Regions from separate parts of the Homo sapiens genome. Here region 2 is linked to region 1. The links come from fine-mapping of genetic effects on gene expression. A gene starts in region 1. The other region holds a variant in brackets. All regions are shown on one strand. Distances are between the middles of the regions. Region 1 holds the start of TSPAN9 (tetraspanin 9). Region 2 overlaps TSPAN9 (tetraspanin 9).

Region 1 (2,902 bases):
TTAAATAAAATTATATACAGCTAATGTAACGTGCATAGAAAAAACTTGGCCAACTATAAATTACTTTATCAACACTAGTTATTGTTATTAATATTAAATATCTGTTCATAGGTTTAAAAAGCTCTGCCAGAATATTAAAATCTGATTAAACCAGACCAAAAAAAAAAAAATCCTACTCTCACCTGTTCAGGGACTTGCACACAGGGCGTCTTCAGTGAGTGAGAGTAGAACTGAATTACACTTCAAGTTTTATCTACCCCAATCCTCTCCCTCCAACCCACAGCCCAGCTGCATCAGCCATGCCAGGACCAAGCCGAGGGTAGGAAGCCGGTGTAATTGTCTGCCTCTCTGGCTGCATTCCTTAGCTAAATATAAATGATTTGTCCAGGCTATTGTTTGAAATTATCCATAATCCCTCTCCTCCCCTCCCCATTACTTATGATGGCAAGCTGGCTGCGTATCTCTATAGCAAAGCATATATTCAACATTCTCTGTGGCTATTTTCAGTAAAGAGAAGGGAGCTGGCAGGTATATATAGGGATCCTCGCATGAGTCTTCAGTTTTCTCCACTAGTCCAGGAAAGCTTCCTGGAGGAGGAAATACCTGAGTCACCCCAGGGAAAAGGACAGCTGCAGGTCAGAAGGGCACGCGCACATAATGAGAGACTGGGTCTCTGAACTAAGAGTTACCAGGTAAGGCAGGTAAGCCCCTGCCTTCTTACCCCCCGTTTTGGTGATGCGAGAAAAAGGTAGCTCAGGGGATCCCATACTAGCCCAAGCTTCCCCAGACAAAACAGGCATTTGGGGGAAGATGAAGCAGTGACTCGTATATTTTTCAAAGAGGGAGGAGATCCAAGACTCCAGTTCCAAGATGTACAAGTACAAATATTGCTCTTACAACAACAAGCCGGTTTCTTGTTTGGATCTTTTTTTAAAAACCACAAGAAAGTTTTTTGAAGTCCCAAACTTGAATGCACAGATGGGCTAGATCTCCAACTTCGGGATGTGCCAGAGTCCTGTCACTCGGAGTGCTGATCTTCCAGCAGTGGCCCAGGGAGCGGTCGCGGGTGCCGGGGGGCTGCAGGCCATATCCCAGCCCTGCCCGAAGGCCCCCTGGCCCTCTCTGGGGTCCTTGTATGGACTGTCCCAAGCGGTGCACGGGGTCACACAGTCGGAAACCCTTGCCGGCCCCGGGTTACTCCCTTTCTGAAACGGTCTTCCTCGGAGCCATCCCCTGGAGGACCCCACTTCGCTCGGTGCCCGGGCCCCGCACCCACCCTCCCCTTCCCGGCCCGCTTCCCGCACGGCGCCTACTCTGTTCCTCGTCCTCTCGTCCCACCGCCGCCCTGCCCACACTGCCTCCCGTGGGCGCCCCCGGCCGCTCCCCCTTCTCGGGTCTCGGCCTGGGGGTGCCCAGCCCGCCCGGCGCCGGCTCAAGGCCGCGCGACTCCGCACGCTCTCGAGACCCGCCTCGCCGCCCGCCGCCCGGGCCGCACTCACCGCGCCCGCAGGACCTGGGGGTCTCCGCTCTGCTCGCGCTCCGGCACCGCCGCCGCCGCCGCCGCCAGCGGAAACAGGGGGCGGGGCCTGCCCGGGAATGGCGAGCCTGCGGGGCGGGGCGGCCCGGGGGCGGAGCGGGGAGGGGCGGGGCGGAGCGGGGAGGGGCGGGGCGGAGAAGGATCGCAGGGCTGAGCGGGGCGCCAGCGCCAGTGCCCGGCACTGCCCCGGGCTGGGTCCCCTGCGTTAGAGGAAGGGGAGCCCGGGGACGGGGCACGGGGCCCGCGAGGCACGGGTGCTCTCTCGGGGTTCCGGAAGCCTCCCTCCCCGCCCCGCCGCCCGCATGCCCGGACCGGCCGCTCCTCCGAGGTGCTATGATCCCGCCTTCCCCCTGCGGCGAACGGGCCTCTTCCCGGGGTAGGGGCGGGGAGGTCCGGGCCTGGCAGTGCGCTCTCCTGGGCTCTGCGCCCACACGGCACCCAAGGGCCTTCCTGGCCCAGGCCTCGGCTCTCTCCCTCGCGCCAGGCTGCCTGGCCTCGCCACCCCACCCCCACACCTACGAACCCCTTCCCTGGTGTTTCGGGCGGACTGTGCGAGATGCTGACAGCGCGGGTGTGTGTTGGAGCCTGCCTGAGACACCTCCCGCAGAAAGGGCCATGCCTCCCCAGGAGCTGGCGGCCTCCAAGGGCGACTACAGGGCACCGTGTGCCTGAGGGGTGCGCTAAGGCAGGAGAAACTCCAGCTAGGCATGTCTGGCCCGGGCGCTTTTTCAGGCCTGGATTTTATGTGTTTTTTGCTTTTTGTTTTGTTTTGTTTTTTCTTGAGACAAGGACTCACTCTGTTGCCCAGGCAGGAGTGCAGTGGTGCGATCACGGCTCACTGCAGCCTCGACTTCCCGGGCTCAAGTGATCCCGCCTCAGCCTCCAGAGTAGTTGGGACTGTAGGCGCGCACCACCACGTCCGGCGAAGTTTTTGATTTTTTTTGTACAGACGGTGGTCTCCCTGGGCCCAAGCTGGTCTCAAACTCCCGGGCTCAAGCCATCCTCCTGCCTCTGCCTCCCAAAGTGCTGGGATTATAGGCCCGGATTCTTAAAGCTAGAAGGCCTAAACTTGTTTCCAAAGAGCACTAAAACGCCATCTCTTCTCATCATTACTGTCATCAAAAATGTCTTCTAGGCCAGGTGTGGTGGCTCACGCGTGTAATCCCAGGACTTTGGGGGGCCCAGGTGGAAGGATTGCTTGAGCTCAGGAACTCAGGAATTCAAGAACAGCCTGGGCAACATAGGGAAACCCCATCTCAAAAAAAAAATGTTTTAATTAACCGGGTGTGGTGGCACACCCCTGTAGTCCCAGCTGCTCCGGAGGCTGAGGCTCAGGCGTTGGAGGCTGCAGTAAACTAGGATCAT
Region 2 (2,902 bases), 210 kb before region 1:
ACACTCACCCTCACGCCTGCCTCCACCCTGGGGACATGAACACAGTGAGGACCAGCAAGGGGAGTTCTGAGCTTCTCATCTGCAACTTGTCACCTTGACTGACAGCCAAGGAAACCCCACACACCAGGACCCCAACCAAGGCCGCGGGAGACTTCGACTGCAGGAAGGCGGCAACGTCAGTGGCCCAGCCAGCAGCTCTTCCTGCTCGCGGTTTTAATGGCCTTCCCTGCTGACCATCCTCATCCTGATTTTGTTCCTTCTTTGAGGCTGTCCCAGTCACCCTGAAAAGGCCAAGACACACTGTGAGGCCCCCTCAGTCCGAGACATCAAGGTCAAATGAACCCCGGGAACATCACAGGGATTGGGAAGAAGACTGTTTCTGAAACTGACAGCCCCCACCCCTACAGGAAGCCCCTTACCCTACTGGAAGCTGCTAGTGGCTTATTCCATACCCGCCCCACGATACACTTCGGGGCCTGGCCACAGGACTGGCCATGTGTGATGGGTGATTGGTACGGAGACAGGACTTCAGCCTCTCAGGCAGAAGGCCTCGGGCACTGGGACTGCCCCCTGATCCAGCCTGTTTCGAGGGGGGATGTTAGGATTCCTCAGGCACCCAGAGAGGACAGAGACCCTCCCCACGCCAGCAGATCTGTGACCTGGGCCCCAAAAGAGAGATGAGGTCCCCCTGGGGGTGTGTCTTGGATGAAGGGTAGGAGTGGTATCTGATCCCTCTGGGTCCCTCACACCAACCACGACCTAAGTCACAGTTTTGGCTGAGTGAACAAAACACACCACTGAGAGACAGCCTGCTGTGCTTTTGACACTTTATCCGTTTTTATTTAAAAACATGCTAAAAACATGGTGTTCCATAAAGCCAGGACCAGGATGAAGGAACGCACAGATACGGCAATGCAAGCAGAAAGTGCATCTGAAACCAACAAGCGTGCTCACCCTGCTCTCCCTCCCGTGCTGCCCGGGGGCAGGCAGGTGGGCAAGGAGGGGGCAGGAAGCCCCCCAGGCCTCACCTCCTGAGTCCCCAATCAGGGCAGGGAGGCCAGGCCCCACCCTGGACTATTGACTCACTGCAGTGGGGAGGAGGAAAGTGTGGGGCACGGGAACACAAGGGCTGGCCGGACTCTGAGAAGCTGAGGGACAAAGAATGGACCCCAAGCACCTCACGCCCAGCTCCCAT[C/T]CTATGCCACGTCCCTGCTAGTTAGCACCTCCACCAGTGGGTGGGCAGGGGCTGGAGAGGAGGGGACAGCCACTTCCATCCACCCAGACTGCTCTTGGGCCACCAAAGCCTGGAAAGATGGCCATCTAGTTCCAAGTCAAACCAGGACACCTGCAAGAGGGTCCGGGGCAGGGCCACCTTCCAGAGAGCCTGAGACACAGGCCCATGCTGGAGGGAGAGGGGGGTGACACGGCTCAAGCTGGGGGAGGGGTGCAGGGGGAGACTTGCACCGTGACACCTGCTTCCACCACCCAAGAGCAGTTCTCAGCCTGTGCCCGCTCACCCCCACTGCAGGATGGCTGCAGAGAAAGGCTGAGTCTGCAGCGGATGCCCCCCTGCAGTCCTCTACAAACCCTGAGGGACTTTCTGAGACAAGTGTGTAAATTGCTCACATCAGACCTGATTGAACTGACTCTGGCAAAGGGAGCCGTGAGTGAGGGAATTCTCTCAGGGGAATTCTACCCCAGTGAGATCACAGTCAGGAGAAACTGAAGAGAGGCTGTGCCACCTTCACTGGCATCGCTGGGTGTGGCCCTCTGAGTGGAAGGGGCTCGAAGGAACACCCACTCTGTGCACACAGACTTCCGCCCAATGTAGACTAAGCCAAATAACAAAACGGCCAAGCGCAGAGTGAGTAAAGAAGGCAGCGTGGGGACCTGTAGATGAGGCTCTGCAAACAGACGGATGAGGTGGGGGCTGGTGGGAGCACTGTGGCAAAGGCTCTGGGGCCAGAGGCCACCCCTGAAGTACTCCAGAAACAGAAAAGATTTTCAGGGAGGTTGCACATCTCCCAATGCACTAGGCTTTTGCTGTTGATATTAACAAAAATTAAAAATTGCATTGATAGGCATAAACCAACCCACCCACCCCACCCACAGCAAAAAACGCACGAGGCCCCGGGTCCCACCGTGCAACTGCAGCACTTGTCTGCTGAGTCTCTCCGCCCGGATGTGTCTGCTCCGGAATCTGCACTTTGGGGGTTCCTGCGGAGGCGGCTGAAACTCCTTACCAGGAAGCCAGGCCAGGGGACAAGGGCAGGGCAGCTTTGCTCAAATGTGGGCCTCCCCCACATTCCATCAGCACCACTGCCCCTGTCTCAGGGAAGCGGTCTTCACCCTGCACAACTCACAAGACCACCCTACTCTCCACTCCCACCCCCACAAAACACGAATCCTGATAATGCCAACGGTTCTGTCCTCCTGTTCCCGATTTGTGTGTTACTTAAGGTGAACAGAGGAGTGACTGGTGCTGGGTGGCCGTGTCTCAGCTCTTGGATCAGACAGGCAGGTGGAGGCTGGAGAAGAGACCTGGCCCCAGTGGGAAACCAGGGTGACAAGACAAACTGTATAGGAAAGGCAGCCGCCCACCAAGGCCCCACCTGATCAAGTGCAGCAGACGCTGGCTAGCGGGTGAGGTCCCCGTGCTCAGTCCCACGGATTCGCGACCTTTTTGAACGGCAAAACAGTAAGCCAGACCAGCTGCAGTTTGGAGGGGGCGCCCTGCTGCAGCTGAATCCCACTCCTGGCCTCACTCCCCAGCCCGTTTCTCTCCCATGCCCAGCTCTGCACGTGCGTGACTCCGGCTGCTTTCTTCCCGTGGCTCCGGTAACAAGAGCCAGTCTGACCTCTCTTGGGTTTTCTGTATTTCTTCTCCTTGGGATCACAGATG

What was found.
Region 2: its variant is fine-mapped to the expression of TSPAN9 in lung (TOPMed, PIP 0.92).

Annotation. Positions count from the first base shown.
Region 1 is chr12:3,076,051-3,078,952 of GRCh38, reverse strand. TSPAN9 (tetraspanin 9) reads right to left here and starts at 1,574. Exons shown (of 9, transcript NM_006675.5): 1 at 1,500-1,574. RefSeq lists silencers at 1,469-1,968, 2,019-2,068.
Region 2 is chr12:3,284,473-3,287,374 of GRCh38, reverse strand. TSPAN9 (tetraspanin 9) reads right to left here. Exons shown (of 9, transcript NM_006675.5): 9 at 816-2,902. Among named protein-coding and RNA genes, the nearest start is that of LINC02827, 14 kb to the left of the region's middle. RefSeq lists enhancers at 2,148-2,648, 2,649-2,902. The variant C/T (reference allele first, on the strand shown) is at 1,196.